Linked DNA regions of Homo sapiens: region 2 is linked to region 1. The links come from fine-mapping of genetic effects on gene expression. A gene starts in region 1. The other region holds a variant in brackets. All regions are shown on one strand. Distances are from middle to middle.

Region 1 (11,212 bases):
TTCAGTTATTTCTTCATTCATCCATTCAGCAAACATATATTGAAGAGATACCATTTAGCAATTTTTTATTTCATTTTGTGTCGCAGTCCTAGCTATCCTATTTGTTTGCAATGTATACTCAATTTATCTGCCAGCTGTCACTCCCCTCTCCCAAGACAAAAGTGGGTTACTGCTAAGCTTTCAGTCTCTCCTCCCCATTCCTTCTCACCCCATCCTAGTATGGCCCCTTCTCCCCAGATGTCTTATGTATCATATATTTTTCTGTCCCAGATCCAAATGACATACATAAAGTAGGACAAATGTCAATTAAGTTCTTTACATGTAGTGAGGTAGTTGTAGGAGGAGTATGGACAAGGGAAAATGATGGCATGGCATTTTGAGACTTGGTGGGGATATATATGGTCTAACCAATAATCAGGACATGTGCCCTGACAAGTAAATGGAGGTGTATAGTAAAAACAAAGGCAGGATATTTGAAATCACCACTATCCTAGTAAATGCAGAAGTGTTGTCACCAAATTTACAAATTTGTTACTTCTAATTCATTGGGGAAAACTTTGGAGGGATAAGATTTCAGGAATTACTTGAATAAAGGGAGCTTGACTAACTTAGTATGAGAGAACAGAAGGCCATAATCCAGGTTTAGCATTAGGTATGGGAAACACCTAGAGAATAAGGAAAGTGTATATTTTGTAAAGTAGCTGACCAAAAATGTGCACAATTGTCTAATTCTTGTGTGTGTGTGTTTTGTTTTTGTTTTTTTTTTTGCTACGGAGTTTCACTCTTGTTGCCCAGGCTGGAATACAATGGCACTATCTCGGCCCACTGCAACCTCTGCCTCCCAGGATCAAACGATTCTCCTGCCTCAGCCTCCCGAGTAGCTGCGATTACAGGTGCCCACCACCATGCCTGGCTAATTTTTTGTATTTTTAGTAGAGATGGAGTTTCACTGTGTTGGCCAGGTTGGTCTCAAACTCCTGGCCTCAAGTGATCCACCCACCTTGTCCTCCCAAAGTGCTGGGATTACAAGGGTGAGCCACTATGCCCGGCCACAATTACCTAATTCTAAGGCTTCAAGATTTTCCATTCTTTTTCCTTGATTTTCAATGGAAACACATGATTACTATTAGTAAGCGTTACTATTTAGCCTTCACATGTTGTATGTCTAACACACTGCATATATTGTTTTATTAAATCTTTACAAATCCTGTGCAAGGTAAAAACCATTCCCATTTTCTTTTCTTTCTTTCTTTCTTTTTTTTTTTTTTTTTTTATGAGACGAGTTTCGCTCTTGTTGCCCAGCCTGGAGTGCAATGGCACGATCTTGGCTCACTGCAACCTCCACCTCCCAGGTTTAAGCGATTCTTCTGCCTCAGCCTCCTGAGTAGCTGGGATTACAGGCATGTGCCACCACGCCCGGCTAATTTTATATTTTTAGTAGAGATGGGGTTTCTCCATATTGGTCAGACTGGTCTCGAACTCCCGACCTCAGGTGATCTGCCCACCTCGGCCTCCCAAGGTGCTGGGATTACAGGCGTGAGCCACCGCGTCCGGCCCCCATTTTCTTTTTCTTTCTTCTCTTTTTTTGAGACGCAGTTTTGCTCTTGTTGCCCAGGCTAGAGTGCAATGGTGCCATCTCAGCTCACCATAACCTCTGCCTCCCAGGTTCAAGCGATTCTCCTGCCTCAGCCTCCCAAGTAGCTGGGATTACAGGCATGCGCCACCACGCCCAGCTAATTTTGTATTTTTAGTAGAGACGGGGTTTCTCCATGTTGGTCAGGCTGGTCTCGAACTCCCGACCTCAGGTGATCCACCTGCCTTAGCCTCCCAAAGTGCTGGGATTACAGGCATGAGCCACCGAGCCCGGCATGTGTTTTTTTGTTTTGTTTTGTTTTTGAGACGGAGTCTCGCTGTGTCGCCAGGCTGGAGTGCAGTGACGCGATCTCGGCTCACTGCAACCTCTGTCTCCTGGGTTCAAGAGATTCTCCTGCCTCAGCCTCCTGAGTAGCTGGGACTACAGGCGCGCACCACCATGCCCAGTTAACTTTTTTGTATGTTTAGTAGAGACGGGGTTTCGCCGTGTTGGCCAGGATGGTCTCGATCTCTTCACCTCGTCATCCGCCCGCCTCAGCCTCCCAAAGTGCTGAGATTACAGGCGTGAGCCACTGTGCCCGGCTCCATTTCCATTTTCCTTGAAGGAAATCACGGAATAATTTTCTTAAAGTTATACAGCTATCAGTAGCACATCCTCAATTGTCTGACTCCAAGAAAGTTGTTTTATATAATAGGATATGTATAATGTGAGCCTCTTCAAATAATCTGAAAATTGAGGAACTCTATCAATAGAAAGCTTCAGGCCGGGCGTGGTGGCTCACGCCTACGATCCCAGCATTTTGGGAGGCTGAGGCTGGTGGATCACGAGGTCAGGAGTTGGAGACCAGCCCGACCAACATGATGAAACCTCGTCTCTACTAAAAATACAAAATTAGCCCGGTGTGGTGGCGCAGGCCTGTAATCCCAGCTACTCGGGAGGCTGAGGTAGGAGAATCGCTTGAACCCTCCAGGAGGTAGGAGATGGAGGTTGTGGTGAGCTGACATCGCGCCACTGCACTCCAGCTTGGGCAAGAAGAACGAAACTCTGTCTCAAAAAAAAAACAAAAACAAAAACAAAAAACAAAGCTTCATGGGGTTGAGAGCAATAGAGATCATTGCTGGAATCACATATAATCTTAAAACTTAAAAAATGGACAGGAAATAATTTTAAAAGAAAACTGACAATTTTTTTTTTTTTTTTTTGAGACGGAGTCTCGCTCTGTCGCCAGGCTGGAGTGCAGTGGCGCGATCTCGGCTCACGACAACCTCCGCTTCCCGGGTTCAAGCCATTCGCCTGCCTCAGCCTCTCGAGTAGCTGGGACTACAGGCACGTGCCACCACGCCCAGCTATTTTTTTTTTTTTTTTTTTTTGTAGTTTTAGTAGAGACGGGGTTTCACTATGTTGGCCAGGATGGTCTCCATCTCTTGACCTCGTGATCCGCCCGCCTCGGCCTCCCAACCAAGTATTTTTAAAAGACAGGTAAAGGGGAGCAAGGAATGAAAACCATAAAACCATATGGATTGACTATATCACCTGTCGTAGTGGAAAGGGTCTCACAACCAAGTGAGAACAAGCAGATTTACATTCCAATCCTGGTTCCACAGCCTGGGACCCAGCACTCACCTTCTTTTGGTCTAATTTCCTCATCGGTAATTTATTTTATTTAACTTTAAAAAATTTTTTTTATTTTTTTGCAGATAGGGTCTTGCTTTGACGCCTAGGCAGTGTCGCAATCTCAGCTCACTGCAACCTCTGCCTCTGAGGTTCAAGCGATTCTCCTGCCTCCTGCCTCAGCCTCCGGAGTAGCTGGGACTACAGGCGCGCGCCACCACACCCCGCTAATTTTTGTATTTTCAGTAGAGGCGGGGTTTCACTATGTTGACAGGCTGGTCTGGAACTCCCGACCTCAAGTGATCTGCCCACCTCGGCCTCCCAAAGTGCTGGGATTACAGGCTGAGCCACCACACCCGGCCGGTTTTCTCATCAGTAATTTAGATTTTAAAGTTCCCTTTAAGATTACTTGAATACTTAAAGTCTAAGCTTTTCGATTCTTTATTTCTCAATGAGGTTAAGAAAGGAAGTATTTCATGGCCAGGCGCGGTGGCTCACGCCTGTAATTCTAGCACTTTGGGAGGCCGAGGCGGGCGGATTGCCTGAGATCAGGAGTTCGAGGCCAGCCTGGGCAACACGGTGAAGCCCAGTCTCTACTAAAATACAAAAAATTAGCCGGGTATGGTGGCGTTGGTCCCAGCTACTCAGGAGGCTGAGGCAGGAGAATCGCTTGAACCCGGGAGGTGGAAGTTGCAGTGAGCTGAGATTGTGCCATTGCACTCCAGCCTGGGCGACAGAGCAAGACTCCGTCTCCCTGCCATCCTCCCCCCCACCCCCCCACCCCCCAAAAAGCAAGGAAGTATTTTAGGAAACCGGACAGGAAATAGAACCATTAATAAGGAGAATGTCATCATTCACAGAGTGCCAAAAATTCATCTGGGATGAATATGCAGCTCCCAGTGCTCTTCACTAATTCTTATGTACATGACTTGATTAACAGTTAAAGAATATCCTGGTCTCCATTTCTGCCATTTTAAAAGTAAGTAACCATTAATTACAGAAGCGTTCCTAATAGGTGGTAAGGTGGTCATCTAGGGTATAGCTAAGGGCCAGACTCGAGTCAATTAGAATCCTGGGACCTGTCAAACGCAGTCCTGCGGAGCAGCCTTCAGACAGTGAATCTATAAAATGGATGGTTTCTTTCTTTCTTTTTTGAGACGGGGTCTCCCTGTCACCCAGGCTGGAGTGTAATGGTGCCATCTCGGCTCACTGCAACTTCCCCTTTCCGGGTTCAAGGGATTCTCCCACCTCAGCCTTCCAAGTAGCTGAGATTACAGGCACCCGCCATCATGCCCGGCTAATTTTTGTATTTTTGTAGAGACGGGGTTTCACCATGTTGGTCAGGCTGGTCTTGAACTCCTGAGCTCAGGTGATCCTCCCCCACTCGGCCTCCCAAAGTGTTGGGATTATAGGCGTGAGCCACCGCGCCCGCCCGGATGAATTTTCAAATAGAAACAATCCAGTTTCCCACATCACACGGAGATTGTGTGGATGGGTAATCCATGAAAAGCCTGGTGCTGGCACTCAGTCCCAATAAATGTTAGCTAAAAATTAGGAACTTTTCAAAGGGATGAATGTGCTTTCTAATAGAAGTAGCTGCCAGTGACATCTTGGGAGCCTCTTTTTAAAAGCAAAAAATTATTTCATCTTAAATTTTCACAAGTTCAGATTTTTATGTACCTGATTTTAACGGAGTATGAAACAGCTTGCTCTCGTAGTTACTCACCGTCATATGTTAATCGTATCATTTCTGAGCTGTTTTTTGATTTTACAAACCCTTAAATTAAGAAACGGATTAGGAACCGCCCATTAACACTGTTGGCAAATGATTTAAAATCAGGGTTGCTGGTTTTTCTGTGATAATCTATCGGCTTCAAGACGCACAGATCTCACTTTCATGGAAAGAAGTTGCCTGATACAGTTTTCCACCGGAGAGAAAAATAAAGGCTGGTACTTGGAACCTGCAAGCCGTGCATTTGGAACCTCGGACTCAAGTGCCTATTACGTAATTCCACAGCGTCCCGGCCTCCAGGCCGTTTCCCGAGCCCTCCAGCGGAGCGGGGGATAAGGTTACCACGCCCGCGGTGGCCGGGGACACTCTGAGTTTCGCGTGTGGCTTTTAGGGACGTTTATATTTGAATTTCCCTGAACCGCCGAGTGTGGGCGGTGGCGCAGATCCGTCCCGGAAACCTCCGGGCTCCTTCCCGCCTTTCTCAGGCCCGGCCCCTCCAAGGGGTCCCCGCGGGGCGGCGGGAGGGCCCTGGGCCCAGAGCCGCGCGGGTGGGCAGTCCCAGGCGTCCTTCCTTACAGCCCTGAGCCTGGTCCGGGAACCGCCCAGCCGGGAGGGCCGAGCTGACGGTTGCCCAAGGGCCAGATTTTAAATTTACAGGCCCGGCCCCCGAACCGCCGAAGCGCGCTGCCTGCTCCCCATTGGCCCATGGTAGTCACGTGGAGGCGCCGGGGCGTGCCGGCCATGTTGGGGAGTGCGGCGCCGCGGCCCGCGCCACCTCCGCCCCCCGCGGCTTGCCTCCAGCCCGCCCCTCCCGGCCCTCCTCCCCCCGCCCGCCGCTCCGTGCAGCCTGAGAGGAAACAAAGTGCTGCGAGCAGGAGACGGCGGCGGCGCGAACCCTGCTGGGCCTCCAGTCACCCTCGTCTTGCATTTTCCCGCGTGCGTGTGTGAGTGGGTGTGTGTGTTTTCTTACAAAGGGTATTTCGCGATCGATCGATTGATTCGTAGTTCCCCCCCGCGCGCCTTTGCCCTTTGTGCTGTAATCGAGCTCCCGCCATCCCAGGTGCTTCTCCGTTCCTCTAAACGCCAGCGTCTGGACGTGAGCGCAGGTCGCCGGTTTGTGCCTTCGGTCCCCGCTTCGCCCCCTGCCGTCCCCTCCTTATCACGGTCCCGCTCGCGGCCTCGCCGCCCCGCTGTCTCCGCCGCCCGCCATGGCGACTGCGACCCCCGTGCCGCCGCGGATGGGCAGCCGCGCTGGCGGCCCCACCACGCCGCTGAGCCCCACGCGCCTGTCGCGGCTCCAGGAGAAGGAGGAGCTGCGCGAGCTCAATGACCGGCTGGCGGTGTACATCGACAAGGTGCGCAGCCTGGAGACGGAGAACAGCGCGCTGCAGCTGCAGGTGACGGAGCGCGAGGAGGTGCGCGGCCGTGAGCTCACCGGCCTCAAGGCGCTCTACGAGACCGAGCTGGCCGACGCGCGACGCGCGCTCGACGACACGGCCCGCGAGCGCGCCAAGCTGCAGATCGAGCTGGGCAAGTGCAAGGCGGAACACGACCAGCTGCTCCTCAAGTGAGTGCTAGCTGGCGGCCGCGTTAGCGCCAAGGAGGGGCGGGGGCGCAACCGCGGCGACCAGCTCACCGGGTTCTGCCGTGGGGAGGGAGCAGAGGCCAGGATGCACGCGTCCTTCTGAAGGAACAGGGTCTCGGTCTCCGGAAAGGAGAAAGAATCTAGAGTTCATAGCGGAGCAGGGGTCGCGGAGGGGGCTCGAGCTGTAGCGCTGGGGGGCCGTGATGCCCATTTCTAGATTTTGGATACCCGCTGGGACGTGGTAAGTGCGCGCCTGGGACTGCCGAGAAGGAGCTCCCGCTTTCGCACTCGAATCCGGGGAGCCGGCGCGGAGAGGCGGCCCCTCAGGCCCCAGGTGCGGGGAGCTGGAGCGCGAGCGCGCGCTCGCGTGCGCGCCCCAGTTTCCGGCCGGCGCGAGACAAAGCGTCTAGCGGATTTGCAGTGCCGGGATGGGCGGCCGGGGAGGACTGGCAGCCCGCCTCTAGAATGAATGAGCTTCGCGCGGGCAGAGAGAGGAAGGGGAGGGACCTTCCCGCAGCATCCGCGTCTCCTGGGGGTGGGTCCCGCTTTGGCGCGCTCAGTCTTGGCCCTGTGACGTTTTGCGAAGATTCTACGCCTGCTTTAGGCGGGAGAGAGAGGCGGAGCTTGATCCGTGCGCCTCCAGCCAGCCCCGGGCAAGTTAGGTTTGCTAGCTGGTTAGCTTTCTCTGGGGAAATGTGTCCTGTCCCAGCGGGGATGGTGCGGTCCCTCGGGTGGTTCTGCGCAGGGAAGGAAAGCTGGGTTTGTGCATGTCACGGCTACCGTTCTTAGAATTGCGGTTCTCCTACCCCTCAGGCAGCGGCCCTCTGTCCCCAGCTTTTGCCTCCTCGTAGTATAGTCAGGCTTTCGGGTAGAGACTGTGCTTAGTACCCCTTAGTCGACCACTGTGCAGATAGTAGACCAGGGCAGGTGACAGGGTGCTGTGTAAATGCTGAGTGTTTGAGCGAAGGAGAGTTTGTAATTCACCTAAGCGAGTGCGAGTTTTCATTCCAGTGCACAAGGATACATTTGCAGACCTTTGCTGGCCTTATTTTGACTTTCTGATAAGCAAAATGGCCTGTCATCAGTAGGCAACAAGTGTTGATGTCATGCTTTAGAGATTTGCAAAATTTGGGTCTGAAATTCATGGTCGCCATTAGCACTGCCAGCTGAAATTTCTGGAGGTACCTTATTCTCACTTTGACACCCTTTGCCCCTGGATGTCTTTCTGTCTGTATCTGCGTGAATGTCCCTGTCCGAAGTCTCTGAGATTTTGTGTATTTTTACTTATCCCTCCTATCATATGTTTTCGGTTCATAAAAAAGCATGTGCACGTGGTAAGAATAAAATAGTATAGACTGGTTTGTAGCGAAAAACGATAACTGCACTACCTCTTTCCGGAGGCAATCACATTTATCCCTTTTTGTTTTTATTTCTTTGGATATTTAGTTATACAACTCGAAAATAATACTAAGCTTGTATTTCCCTTTCTTGGATTTACTAAGCCTTGGTTTCATCTTTTAAAATGAGCAGTCAGTTAACTCACACTATTATTTCTATGTTCCTCCAAATTTTTTGCCACTGAATTCCTTCAAATCTTAGATATCGTTGCTTGTAAGACTTGCCATTATTATGTGTACCACTAAGAAAATAAAAACATCAGGACCAACTGTGTAGGATCCATCCTGTTGGACCCATCATGATGGGTTTCATAGATATTAAAATGTCAAACAGGGCCGGGCGTGGTGGCTCACGCCTGTAATCCCAGCGCTTTGGGAGGCGAGGTGAGCGGATCACTTGAGGTCAGGAGTTCGAGACCAGCCTGACCAATATGGTGAAACCCCGTCTCTACTAAAAATACAAAAATTGGCCGGACGCGGGGGCTCACGCCTGTAATCCCAGCACTTTGGGAGGCCGAGGCGGGCGGATCACGAGGTCAGGAGATCGAGGCCATCCTGGCTAACAAGGTGAAACCCCGTCTCTACTAAAAATACAAAAAATTATCCAGACGTGGTGGCATGCATCTGTAGTCTCAGCTACTTGGGAGGCTGAGGCAGGAGAATCGCTTGAACCCAGGAGGCGGATATTGCAGTGAGCTGAGATTGCGCCATTGCACCCCAGCCTGGCGACAGAGTGAGACCCCATCTCAAAAAAGAAAAAAAATCCGGGCGTGGTGGCGGGCGTCTGTAATCCCAGCTACTGGGGAGGCTGAGGCAGGAGAATCGCTTGATATCCAGGAGGCAGAGGCTGCAGTGAGCCAGATGGTCCACTGCACTCCAGCCTGGGTGACAGAGTGAGACTCCGTCTAAAAAAAAAAATTAACACAGATCAAATATCTGTTGCGTACCAGTCACCGTTCTATGTTAGAGGATATGAAGATTTTTTTAAAAAAATGAATTACTGTTCTTTGTTGCTGAGAGTGTAGTGGGGGAGCTATATCCCAGCAAGTAAAGAAAGATTGTCTTTTGTCTGATGTGAAGCATTTTGATGCTGGCGCTTTTGTAATCTTTCCAGGAGTTAGCCACAGGAGGTTTTTCACACAGTAACAAGGCTGCCACCTGGCTGACAGTAGTTGTAAATGTATCGATTCTAAAATGCATGCTGGTTTCAGCGGGGTTAAAAAATGAGAATAATGTGTATTAGAATCAATGAAATAATGCATGTGATACAATTTAGGTAATAGCAGATGCTAAGGGAATAAAAATAAAGCGGAGTGAAGGGTTAGTGTGATTAAGGAAGGCCTGTCTGAGGAGTTGACAGTACCTATTCTCTGAGGGTTAGTAGTGTTCTGGGATTATATTTTTCTTAAGTCTGTGCTACTGTATGTATATTCCTATTGCCAGGATTAGATGACTCTTCTTTTCCCCCCAACATACCATCATTTGCTCAAAACATGCCACATTTTAGTTTGCTCCTTATTTGAATTAGGACTTTTTTTATATGGATTTATTCCTCAATAGCTTTTCATTTTTCTTGTTAAGAAAAATTTGCCCTCAGTGTGTTTGCAGACTTTTTGAAGATATTTAATCATAATATCTATCACATGAATCTGCTTTCTTCCCTAGAGTTCTCTTTGCTTAAGGTAGGCTGTGTACTGATGTCCTGTAACTTATTAAAGACAGCTTCCTGGCCAGGCACGGTGGCTCACACCTGTAAAGCACTTTGAGAGGCCTAGGCAGGTGGATCACCTGAAGTCAGGAGTTCAAGACTAGCCTGTCCAACATGGCGAGACCCCGTCTCTACTAAAAATACACAAATTAGCCGCGTGTGGTAGTGGACGCCTGCAATCCCAGTTACTGTGGAGGCTGAGGCAGGAGGCATTGCTTGAACCGGGGAGGCGGAGGTTGCAGTGAGCTGAGATCACACCACCGCACTCCATCCTGGGTGTATTTTCCTTTTCCTTGGTTTCTTCATATTTTGTTGAAGAACATCCTTAAGTAATTTATTCAGAAAGGATGGCAGGAGGTAAACTTTCTGAGTCCTGTATGTCTGAAAATAGCTTTGGGCTAGGTATAGAATACTAGGTTAACATTTTTCCAGAACTTGGAAAGTATTATTTTGCCCTATTGTCTTCTGGCATCTAGGGTTGTTAATGTCTTTCTTTTTTTTTTGAGACGGAGCTTGGCTCACTGCAACCTCCGCCTCCCAGGTTCAAGCGATGCTCTTGACCCAGCCTCCCAAGTAGCTGGGATTACAGGTGTGCACCACCACACCCGGCTAATTTTGTATTTTTAGTAGAGACGGGGTTTCACCGTGTTGGCCAGGCTGGTCTCCAACTCCTGACCTCAGGTGATCCACCCACCTCGGCCTCCCAAGGTGCTGGGATTATAGGCGTGAGCCACCATGCCTGGCCTATATTTAATTTTTTATTTGGAACTAGAGTGTTTGTAATTAAGTATAATCATCATTTAGGTAGATTTAGATTAAGAAAACAGCTTTGAGAGAATTATAGATTCCAGGTTACTTAGTTTCTTTTTGGTTCCTCAGCAAACAAGATACCTTAGAGGCAGAGCATGGAAATGCTTGGTCTAAAGAGAATTTGGCAACAGTTTCCATGCAGGTGGTGTCTGAATCCATAGAAAACAGACCTCATATGTAAGGTACAGTTACTTTGATTCAGTCCAAGACTGATTATATTTTGCTGAAAGCTTTTTTGAGAGAACAGTTTCCAAAAATGATGATGAATGCCATCACTCAACACTTTAAACAAAAAGTACAGAGAAATTGACTTGTTTCAGATTTTCACTGTTAACTATACGGGAAAACTAGATATAACAGAAAGTTAAGTGTTTACATCAGTCTTCAATAACTGATTTTGTGGATTCAGACATTTATTTTCCTTCAGTGATACAGGTCCCGTATCTTTTCTGTAAAACCCTGGGGGCCAGATGTGCTTTGGAAGTTAAAGCAATTCCAATTTAAGACGGTAATATGATGCACATACTGGATATGACACCCCCAGTGGGGTTTATAGATAGAGTTAGGGTAGATAGAGTTAGCACTCTATCATGAAACATTTCTGAGGGAAAGATATTGTCATGGCAAGTGGAGAAAGACAGATTGAAAATAGACCTGGTTTCAGGTCAGGTTTTGCCACTAAATGTGTTAATAAAAATTTTAGGTTTTCAAACTCTGGAAGTATAGATAAAAGATGGTGAATTTTTGTTTTTATTTATTTATTTTTTGACACAGA
Region 2 (11,212 bases), 35 kb after region 1:
TTAACTTATAAAGGCTTGGTCACAGCAGCTAATTACTGTCAACATGTTTAAGCATTAGTTATCTATTCCTGCCTAACAAATTACTTCCAAAGTTCATCAACCTAAAACCACAGACTTGTATTAATTTCTTAGTTCCTGAAGGTCAGAATTCAGAGCTGCTAAACTGGGTGGTTCTGTTTCTTGGTCCCATGAGGTTGCAGTACAGCTTTTAACCTGGGCTGGAGGAATGGCATCTGAGCTCTTTCACAGGGCTGTGGGCAGGACGTGTCAGTTCCTCACCTCATGGTCTTCTTCATAGGGCTGCTCATGATATGGCCCCCCTAAGGGTCAGTGATGAGAAAGAGAGAGAGAGAGAGAAAGAAACACAACGAGAACATGAATACATGCTACCAGCTACCAAGGCAGAAGCCAGATTGTCTTCTATAACCTAATCACAGAGGTTACATACCATCACTTTGGCCTTCTCCTATGGCTCACATCTGGAAATGCGGCTACTCACAGCATTTATAGGCGTGTAAATTTTTTTTTTTTTGAGACACGAGACCCGCTCTGTCGCCCAGGCTGGAATGCAGTGGCATGATCTTGGCTCACTGCAACCTCTGCCTCCTGGGTTCAAGCTATTCTCCTGCCTTAGCCCCCCTAGTAGCTGGGACTACAGGCGCATGCACCCACGCCCTGCTAATTTTTTGTATTTTTAATAGAGACGAGGTTCCACCGTGTTAGCCAGGATGGTCTCAATCTCCTGACCTTGTGATTGGCCCGCCTCAGCCTCCCAAAGTGCTGGGATTACAGGCGTGAGCCACCGTGCCCGGCTCACTCATGTGGAAATCTTAAAATATCACTTATAAGCCTTAACTGCTGTGGTCAAGGGGCAGGGGCAAAACCGTTGTCAAACAAAGGAAGTAATAAAATTGAGGAAAGGGGAATGTATATTTCATGAAAATTGTAGAGGGTTGAAATCAACTCATGGGGGAGAACATGCTGTTAATGTGCTAGGCTTAATGTTTTTAGAAGTAGTGTAATTTTGAAAACAGTGCAAATAGGAATTCATTGTAGCAGTTAGCAAACCAGTTTTTTAGTTGGAGGAAAAATAATAGAAATCTGATTATTTTTTAAAATTACAGGCTTTAAACAAAATAGATATTAGTGCAAGGTGCACCAGACAAGCAGTCAGACCTTGGACAACTCTTAGTGTCAGTTTCTTATTTAAAATGAAATACTAATACTGCTATTTTTTTCTTCAATGAGTGGTAAGGATCAAAGTGGAATACTGTGTGTGAAAACTCTTTGGATACTGTAGCAAGTGCTGTCATATAATTGTTACTAAGTGTTGCTTTGTTAAAGCAGATATTTTGATATGAGGTTGACTTACATTTTTGTTTTGTTTTGTAAAAATTGTGATTTATCATTACTTATTTCTGATGTTGTGTGTAGACAACCAGGAGTAGGGTTTTTTTTCTTTGTAAGGTCACTGGTTCTATATAAAAAATAGCATCAGTAAAAAGTAATTTAATATTTTTAGAGTGCATAGCATCTTTGAATTTTTGGCCTTTGCCTTTTTGAGAATGGATGTTAAGATAGTCCTCTTCAGTTTTGTTTTTGTTTTTGTTTTTTTTAACTCTTTTTGGAGACAGAGTCCTGCTCTCTCGCCCAGGCTGGAGTGCAGTAGTACGATCTTGGCTCACTGCAACCTCCACCTCCTGGGTTCAAGCGATTCTTCTGCTTCAGCCTCTGGAGTAACTGGGTCTACAGGCATGTGCCACCATGCCCGGCTAAGTTTTGTATTTTTAGTAGAGACAGGGTTTCACCACATTGGCCAGGCTGGTCTCGAACTCCTGAACTCAAGTGCTCCATCTGCCTCGGCCTCCCAAAGTGCTGGGATTATAGTTGTGAGCCACCGCACCTGGCCTTTTTTACTTTAAAAAAAATTTTTTTGTGTGAGACAGAGTCTCACTCTGTTGCCCAGGCTGGTGTGCAGTGGTACGGTCTTGGCTCACTGCAACCTGTGCCTCCTGGATTCAAATGATTCTTGTGCCTCAGCCTCACGAGTAGCTGGGATTACAGGTTCACACCCTCACAACTGGCTAACTTTTTTTTTTTTTCCTTACTTTTTACTAAGTAATACCATGTTGGCCAGGCTGGTCTAAAACTCCTGGCCTCAGGTGAGCCACTCGCCTCAGCCTCCCAAAGTGCTGGGATTACAGGTGTGAGCCACTACGCTGGCCTTAACTTTTTTTTTTTACATTCATGATATATATTCAGTAATAATATCTAACTTCCTTATTATGAACAGTTGGGGGAAAAAAGGAAGGAGAAAGACGAAAGAGGAAGGAGGAGGTAGACAAAGAACAAACCATTAGCAGTCACTCTTCAGTATTTTTGTGATTTAGGTATTATTTGCTTCATGAAATAGATGTGATCTCTGGGAAGGTGATAGCAGAATCCTCCTGATTTTTCTGATTTTTCAGATTTTGTCAAGTGCATGCTCCTGTGTAGTAGTTAAGAGAAAGATGAAGAAATGCAAAGGAAAATACATGCGCTAATATACACAAACAGCAACTTTGGTGGGTTATACTTCCCTCTTGTGGCTTCTTCAGATATTACCATTCTAATTATTATTTTTTTTTTTTTGAGACGGAGTCCAGCTCAGCTGCCCAGGCTGGAATGCAGTGGTGCGATCTTGGCTCACTGCAACCACCGTCTCCCAGGTTCAAGTGATTCTCCCATCTCAGCCTCCTGAGTAGCTGGGATTACAGGCACCCTCCATCATGGCTGACTAATTTTTGTATTTTAGTAGAGACAGGGTTTTACCATATTGGCCAGGCTGGTCTTGAACTCCTCACCTCAGGTGATCTGATTGCCTTGGCCTCCCAAAGTGCTAGGATTACAGGCGTGAGCCACCGCGCCCAGCCTTCCATTCTAATTTTATTTAGACACTTCCTTAAAACAGAGTAAAGGAAAGGATCATGACAACTACTTCTATTCTTCAATGGTAAATTTTTCATAAATATTTGAGTTAGTCAACTAATATTGTTAATAAGATCCTGTGTCACTTGATAATGATAGCTTAATACCGGCTTTTAAAGAAGTCATGTAAATTAGCTTGTGCTGCCTATTATTATGTCTAAGAAAATGGTTTTATGGCTGGGCAAGGTGGTTCACACCTGTAATCCCAGCAACTTGAGTGGCTGAGGCAGATGGATCACCTGAGGTCAGGAGTTTGAGACCAGTCTGGCCAACATGGGGAAATCTCATCTCTACTAAAAATACAAAAATTAGCTGGGCATGGTGGTATGTGCCTGTAATCCCAGTTACTAGGGAGGCTGATGCAGGAGAATTGCTTGAACCCGGGAGGCGGAGGTTGTAGTGAGCTGAGATCATACCATTGCACAACAGCCTGGGCGACAGAGTGATACTCTATCTCAGAAAAGAAAAGAAAAGAAAAGAAAATAGTTTCATTTCACATAAATCTTTACATGAATTTATCACAACTGTTAAGTTTAACTTTCCATGTGCTGTTTTTTCAGAGATGTTCTTAAGATTATCAATGAAACAATTCAGAAAAATAATTTTTGCTTAGTGTTTAGTATAGTATACTGTGTATAAATCCTTGATTGCAGATAGTTTTAGTAGGCCATCCAGGCCTTTCCTTGGCTTCAGAAAAATAAATAGCTATGCTCCTGAAAAGGAATAGAAAGTTCCTAAGGCTTGAGATGCTACCACTTCTGTCATTAGTTCCATTTCAAAAACCTCAACTGAAAACTAAGAGGCAAAAAAGTGTTTATTCACATGACCGCCTGAGGACAAACAGGAGGAAGTTCGTGTGTAAAACTTCAGATGGCTGTGATGTCACTCAGATGTGTACCAATGCAGCCATGGTAAGTAGCTTGGCTTTATGCTTTTTGTTTTTTCCCCAGGAGATTAACGAGACCAGAAGGAAGCATGAAACGCGCTTGGTAGAGGTGGATTCTGGGCGTCAAATTGAGTATGAGTACAAGCTGGCGCAAGCCCTTCATGAGATGAGAGAGCAACATGATGCCCAAGTGAGGCTGTATAAGGAGGAGCTGGAGCAGACTTACCATGCCAAAGTGAGCTCTCTTCAGAAGATTCTTTTGAACACTTAAAATCATTACTTCACAATTCCCATGATGAACATGGCTTTATGTTTATTTTGTTCTAGTTTTTAAAAATGATTCCCCTAGTCTCCATGAAATATATAGAAAATTGATTTTTTCAAAAAAGTGCAGTTTTCTATAAACTAAATGTTATTAAAAATTACTAGAAGAATGTAGGGTTGTTGCAATTTTATTAGAGGTTAGGTTTTGTCTTTTTGTCCCATTGATCATTCGTACTATGCCATAGTAGTTGAACCCAAACCATGTGAAATAACTTTCTTCCAATAACAAGTACTGATCATGCTGTCCTACATAAACATCCATTTAGTAATGAATGAATGTCAGACTGCATTAGATCTCACTTTCATGTCATCATTGTGCATAGATTGTGACTACCACACTTCCGGCTTTTTTGCATAAGGGCCAAATGGAAAGTCTCTGCTATTTCTTCTTCTGTCACTATTATTCACTTAAAAAAATATTGTAGAAACTTCCCACTTATATTAGCTGACCTTACAAGAATTCATAAAAATCACCAACTAGTACAGGCTTTCCCTGGTAAATGATTTTGCCTTGTGTTTTAAATGTTACATGATTTGATTAAAAAGACTTTTTTGTGGTTGACTTAGAATATTAGAGTCACAGAGTTATTGAAAATTTTCATTGCATGGCTTTAAACTGTTCATGTTGCTTTTTATCTATTGTATGAAGTAGCAGTTAGTGAAAGTGAAAGATCTTATTATAAGCAGTAACTTCAGTTGTATAACATTTATCTAATATCACACATTGAGCTATACAGTGAAGGAGCTAAAGTAAGGATCCGTCACAGACTGTGGCCTCACAGGGAGCCAGGGAGGAGACACAGGAGCATGTCCCTGAGACACACATACACAATAGTGTTATGGGATTTGTATTTTACTCAAGGAGTTTTTTTTGCTTCTGAAAGGAAGTGTTTCTATCTGGTTTGAACGAATCTATAAACTAGTATTTTCTGCTTGTTGGTTTACATTCTGTATTGGATTTGGTGGGTTAGGGATATGTGATGTTTCTTTTCTTACAGACACCACCACAGTCAAGTTGCTATTGCCCAGTCTTCTTATTATCAGTGTTATCTTAGACATTAAAGGTTTAATAGATGAAATATTGAAGTAATAAGCTTTGGGTAAAGGCCTAGGTATATTAGCATTCTTAAAGCTCATTATTTAGGAAGTGACTCTAAAAGTCACACAGAATTACCATCATTCACACCATATCAGCAAACTTCATGATGCTTTTCCTGTGTTTCATCTACC[A/G]GTTACCAGCAGGACTTAGGTTTGAAATGCCTTGAGGTGAATCATGCTTCCTTTTTTGTTTCAGTTCTAGATAAGACTGACTATGCTTTGCTTCTTCTTTTAGCTTGAGAATGCCAGACTGTCATCAGAGATGAATACTTCTACTGTCAACAGTGCCAGGGAAGAACTGATGGAAAGCCGCATGAGAATTGAGAGCCTTTCATCCCAGCTTTCTAATCTACAGAAAGAGGTAAATAATCATCTTTCTGTAAGAAGTTAGACTTGAAGGCTACCTTCACCACGGGCACCTACCTGCTTTGCTTGGGCTGATGTCACTCCTCCCTCTGTTTGTTACAGAGGATGGTGTCATCCTGTGCTTTCGTCTTCACAGTACTTTTCTAGATTCGTTCATTTTGCATTGCATAAACATCCTGTGAGCAGATACTATTGTTCCTAATTAGTAGATTACACAGAGCTAAGGGACTTGCCCTTGAGGAAGGAGCCTGCTAGTTTATTCACTGTACTTACCCTAGGACCCGGATCTTCCGACCTGTCTAACAGCTTCATCTCTACAGAGTTATTCTCAACACCTTCCTTTTTTATATCATTTGAAAACCAAAATGAAGAAAAACATGCAAAAATTCTTTGTGGGTGGTGAATGCTTTGTGTTTCTAGACAAATTCTTTAGTGCTTAAAGTATATAACAATTAGGATCCAGGAAAGTAGCTTTAATTTGCATATTCCGATAAGAATTTAGTGACTCATTCATTCGTTGGTACGCCTAAGTGACAAATGGCATTATTGCCGGCTGTGTTGACTGGCTGCCTATCAGGGTGTGATGGTGTGCTTCAGGTGCTGCTTAAGCAGGCATGGACACTACTTCAGATCAGTTTTAGCCTAGGGTGATGTCAGTGTGGACACAAAGTACATATACTCCATATACTGCATTCAGAATGATTCAGCAATTAACTCGTCACCTTAATTATTTTGGAAATAACTTCCGCTTCTATTTTCCTCAAGGGAGGAAATCTTGTTTTGAATTTTCCACATGAGAATAAACTTTATTTTACTTTTTTTTTTTTTTTTTTTTTTTTCTTTTTGAGATGGAGTCTCACTCTGTCGCCCAGGCTGGAGTGCAGTGGTACGATCTCGGCTCACTGTGAGCTCCGCCTCCCGGGTTCACGCCATTCTCCTGCCTCAGCCTCCCAAGTAGCTGGGACTACAAGTGCGTGCCACCACGCCCGGCTAATTTTTGTATTTTTAGTAGAGACGGGGTTTCACCGTGTTAGCCAGGATGGTCTCGATCTCCTGACCTCATGATCCACCCGCCTCGGCTTCCCAGAGTGCTGGGATTACAGGCGTGAGCCACCGTGCCCAGCCTATTTTACTCTTGATTGGGCTTTTCTTCCTTCCTTTTTCTTTTTACCATTTTTAGTAAAATATTTTTCTAATTATAAAACTGATGACCTCTGTTGCAGGAACTTAGAAATAAAGCAGAAAATGAGTCCCATAAAATGGGGTGATATAAAATAATTTAGTTAACACAGGGGCTTTTACACTGTCTATCATGTGCTTTGTTACTTACGGCACAAATTTTTAAATTATTTTAAACCTATTTTGTGCTGATAGTGTTTTGAAGATTTTCATTTAATAGCAGAGCTGGAAGCACCTCTGAGTTCATTCCATGTAACCACAGATCTAGGTGAGTTTAATGATTTGCCCGTTGCCCAGAGGCTGCAGACTGATAAATGGGTTTCTCTACTCCTTCCCAGTTTTTCCTTTTATAACTCATTTTCTTCAAAGAAGATTTACTTTTAGAAATTTAACAGATAATCTTTTTTTCCATTGCACCATCTGTCTTAGTCCTTTTGGGCTGCTATAACAAACTACTATTGACTTGGTAGCTTATAAACAACAGATATGTCAGAAATTATTTCTCACAGTTTTGGAGGCTGGGAAGTCCAAGATCAAGGCACTGGCAGATTGGATATCTGCCTGGTGAGGGCTGTTCCCCGATTTATAGATGGTGCCTTCTTGCTGTGTCCTCACATGGTTAAAGGGTGAATGAGCACCCTTGGCCCTATATTATAAGGGCATGAATCCCATTCACTAGGGCTTTCCTCTCATGATCTAATTACCACTCAAAGGCCCTACCTCTTAATATCATCACCTTGAGGGTTAGGATTTAAACATGAAATTTGTGGGAACACAAACACACAGACTGTATCACTGTCTTTGTTTTTCTTGTTGTTTTTTTTTCTTCTGAGACAGAATTTCGTTCTTGTTGCCCAGGCTGTAGTGCAATGGCGCAATCTCGGCTCACTGCAACCTCCGCCTCCCAGGTTTAAGCAATTCCCCTGCCTTAGCTTCCCTAGTAGCTGGGATTACCGGCATGCACCACCACACCCTGCTAATTTTGTATTTTTGGTAGAGACAGGGTTTCTCCATGTTGGTCAGGCCGGTCTTGAACTCCTGACCTTAGGTGATCCGCCCGCCTCAGCCTCCCAAAGTGTTGGGATTATAGGCGTGAGCCACTGCACCTGGCCTATATCAACTGTCTTAACAGGTACTTTTCCAAAAATGGGCCTCTCTGTTCTTGTACTGAGTTGGCATTTACTACTCTTTTCCATTTACTAATAGTAAGTTGTCTACTAGTTACTGTCTATCCCTCAATTTTATTTTTTCCTACTGTATTATTATTTTTTTGGCTGCTGCCTAATCCATTTGATTTACTTAGTACAGATCTTCTCTTGAGGTTGATCTTCACTGTGCTTTGGATGAGGAGACTGTTATTAATAAGTAGTAGTGGGCTCTGAAACTTAGTAGCTATGTGTTCTAACCTAGGTTCAAGGCTGTTTCCCTGTTAATTGAATTCCCATTTTTGCAAGTTGGTTTTTTTTTTTTTTTGAGACAGAATTTTGCTTTTGTTGCCCAAGCTGGAGTGCAATGGCACTATCTCAGCTCACTGCAACTTCTGCTTCCCAGGTTCAAGTGATTCTCCTGCCTCAGCCTCCTGAGTAGCTGGGATTACAGGCACGCGCTACCACGCCCAGCTAATTCTTTGTATTTTTAGTAGAAATGGGGTGCACCATGTTAGCCAGGTTGGTTTCAAACTCCTGACTTCAGGTACTCTGCCTACCTTGGCCTCCCAAAATGGAAGGGATTACAGGCGTGAGCTGCTGCCTTAAATGCTGGGATTACAGGTGTAAGCCACTGTGCCTGGCTGCAAGTTTTTTTTGTTAACCTTATCTTAGTGGTTTTTAAGTAATGTTAGGCAGTGCACTGGGGGTTTCCAGGAGCTAACTCCTTAGCAGATAGGAGACGAGCAATCCCTTTAGCCAAAATAGTTTTTAATTTCTCTGGGGTGAATCTTTCCTCTGTTCATTATTGGTAACAGACTTTATGGTAAACAGTATATTTTGAGGAATATTTTTATTAGTTGATAAATTTTAGCCTTAGAAAAATCATCAAAAATAAAAATGTTATCTTTTTGAATATTTTCCTATTGTTTGTCTTAATAGTGTTTGTTGCTGAGTCATATCAGTTTCATCATGCTGCCTATTAGGCCATAAGAATTTCCTTTTGGTTAAATAACTCAGGTTAGTGAAGTACTTCTTAAATTTTACTTAAAATTGACATGGCTTTAAAATACTGGTTTTACAAGATATATTTAAATAATATATAGATGGTAGCAGTGTTATGTTTTGGAATTAGAAATTTTACATTGCTTATAGCATCTCTAGATTTTTGACTTGGGACCAAATGAATTGGTTGGTTAGAGTCTGCTTGCCTTAGAGAAGAGTACAGTATGGTACTTAAAAACACCTCTAACTTTTGTTTTTCTAACACCCAGATTCTGGAGACTTTGGTTGCAGCTAGACCTTAATAAACCAGTACAATTACATTACATACTATAAAATATTTAAAAACCCCAAGATCATCAGAAGTCATAAAATTTAGGGTTAGTGGCAAGATCTGAGAGATCATCTAGATAGTTAGAGCTCTTCATTTTCCTTATGTGGAAACTGGTTTAGTGAGATTAGTTACAGCTTGCTTATAGCCTCATAGGTAGTTTCAATGGCAGAATTAGAAAGGAGAATCTAGGTCTAACTTCTCATACTGTGTTCCTTATATTTCACTACACAGGTGTAAGTGCAGCTACTGAAAATAGAATTTAAATATTTCTATTTAAAATACAGAATGATTCAGAGTAACTTTAAAATTTTTATACCTAGATTTTGATTTTTCCCTCTTAAAGAGCTCTACAACATCAAAGGCAGTCAAACAGAGACATCATTGGGTTTATAAATCTCGGCTCAGGTTATCTGTGAATCTTGGGTAGTTTATATCTCTCATCAACTCTCCTTTAGATTCTACCTTTTTGCCCATTCAAATATATCTTCTACCTCTGATATATGAAATAAAGGGAGGCATTTTGAACTTACATGACTTTTTTTTTTTCTTTTGGAGAAAAAGAAAATACAAGGAACATGGTAGCGGGGAAATGGATTTCTCCATTTATAGCATGATTTTTGCAAACGCAGTTAAATGCAAGTTCTCTGAGGTTCAGGGACTACCTTTGTAATATCCATCTTAAGAGGAGTGCCTGTCTAAATAGCATGTCAAGTCATATACTACTCTGGAATTTAATTAATTGATTGGTCAATTTTTTTTCTTTAAAAATATATTTTTGTGTGTGCGTGTGAACCAGGCACCCCCTCTGCCCCCAAATAGGTTTACAGTGACTCTTGATTATTTTTTAAATAACCTTGTTATTTTGGCATAATTTTAGATTTACAGAAAAGTTGGCAAAGTACTATAGACAGTTCTTGTTTTCCTCTCACCCATTTTCCCCTGTTGTTAGCATCTTATGTTACCATAGTATATTTGTCAAAACTAAGAAACTGACATTGGTATATTACTGTGAACTCGTCTCCAGACTATTTGGATTTCACCAGTTCTTCTGTTATCTTCTTTCTGTTCCAGGTGCCACATGCCTCCCCTGGTCTGTGACAGTTTCTTGGGCTTTCCTTGTTTTTTATGAGCTTGAGTCTTGAGTAAGATTGTCCAGGTATCCTGTAGACTGTCCCCCAATTTGGATTTGTCCGGTGCTTTTCACGTGATTAGACTGGGGTTTTGGGTTTTAAGTGCCCGTTTTGTCACATCGTATCAGGGATTGCACGTATGTGATAACCACATGACATCACTGGTGGTGTTTGGTTTAAGATAGTGTTTGTCAGGTTTCTCCACTGTCAACAGCGCTACTATTTTTCCGTTCCCATACACTGTTCATGGAAAACAGCTCACTAAGTCCAGCCTACCCTCAAGGGTGAAGGACAGGGCAGGACTTAAGCGCCACATTCTGGAGGGAAATCTACATTTATTAAATGGCATTCTTCTGTAACGATTTATCCATTCCCCGTTTGTTTGGTTTGTTTGTTTGTTTGTTTGTGTCCGTATGGACCATGGGCATTTACTTTATACTTTGGGTTGTAAGCTAATACTGCAGTATTTACTTTTTTGGCTTAAATTGTTTCATATTTGGCCACTGGGAGTTCTGTCAGCTTGGCCACTATGTCCCATTGTTTTTTGAGCACTTTGTTGCTTTCTGGTACTATAACATGCTCTAGGCTCATCTTGCATTTTCCCTGCCCCAGTCCTAGAATTATCCAGTCTCCAAGGAGCCCTGGTTCTTGTTATTGGAGAATGGTATATAGAAATTAAGATCTGGGCACTGAGTGTGCTCACTGGTACTGGGTATCACTGCTTCTTGGCCCTCTCACCGATAAAAGTGGGTAACATTTTATGTATGCTAACCCATGTGTA

Evidence for each region.
Region 2: its variant is fine-mapped to the expression of LMNB1 in whole blood (INTERVAL, PIP 0.99).

Annotation. Positions count from the first base shown.
Region 1 is chr5:126,771,364-126,782,575 of GRCh38, forward strand. LMNB1 (lamin B1) reads left to right here and starts at 5,773. Exons shown (of 11, transcript NM_005573.4): 1 at 5,773-6,504. The coding sequence starts at 6,146. It overlaps LMNB1-DT (LMNB1 divergent transcript), which reads right to left and starts at 5,123. Exons shown (of 4, transcript NR_134485.1): 1 at 4,932-5,123. RefSeq lists silencers at 4,550-4,599, 5,250-5,899, 6,100-6,179, 6,490-6,539, 6,750-6,859 and enhancers at 5,534-6,334, 7,350-7,439, 8,743-8,812, 8,823-8,912.
Region 2 is chr5:126,806,263-126,817,474 of GRCh38, forward strand. It overlaps LMNB1 (lamin B1), which reads left to right. Exons shown (of 11, transcript NM_005573.4): 4 at 3,918-4,088; 5 at 5,511-5,636. Among named protein-coding and RNA genes, the nearest start is that of LMNB1, 35 kb to the left of the region's middle. The variant A/G (reference allele first, on the strand shown) is at 5,408.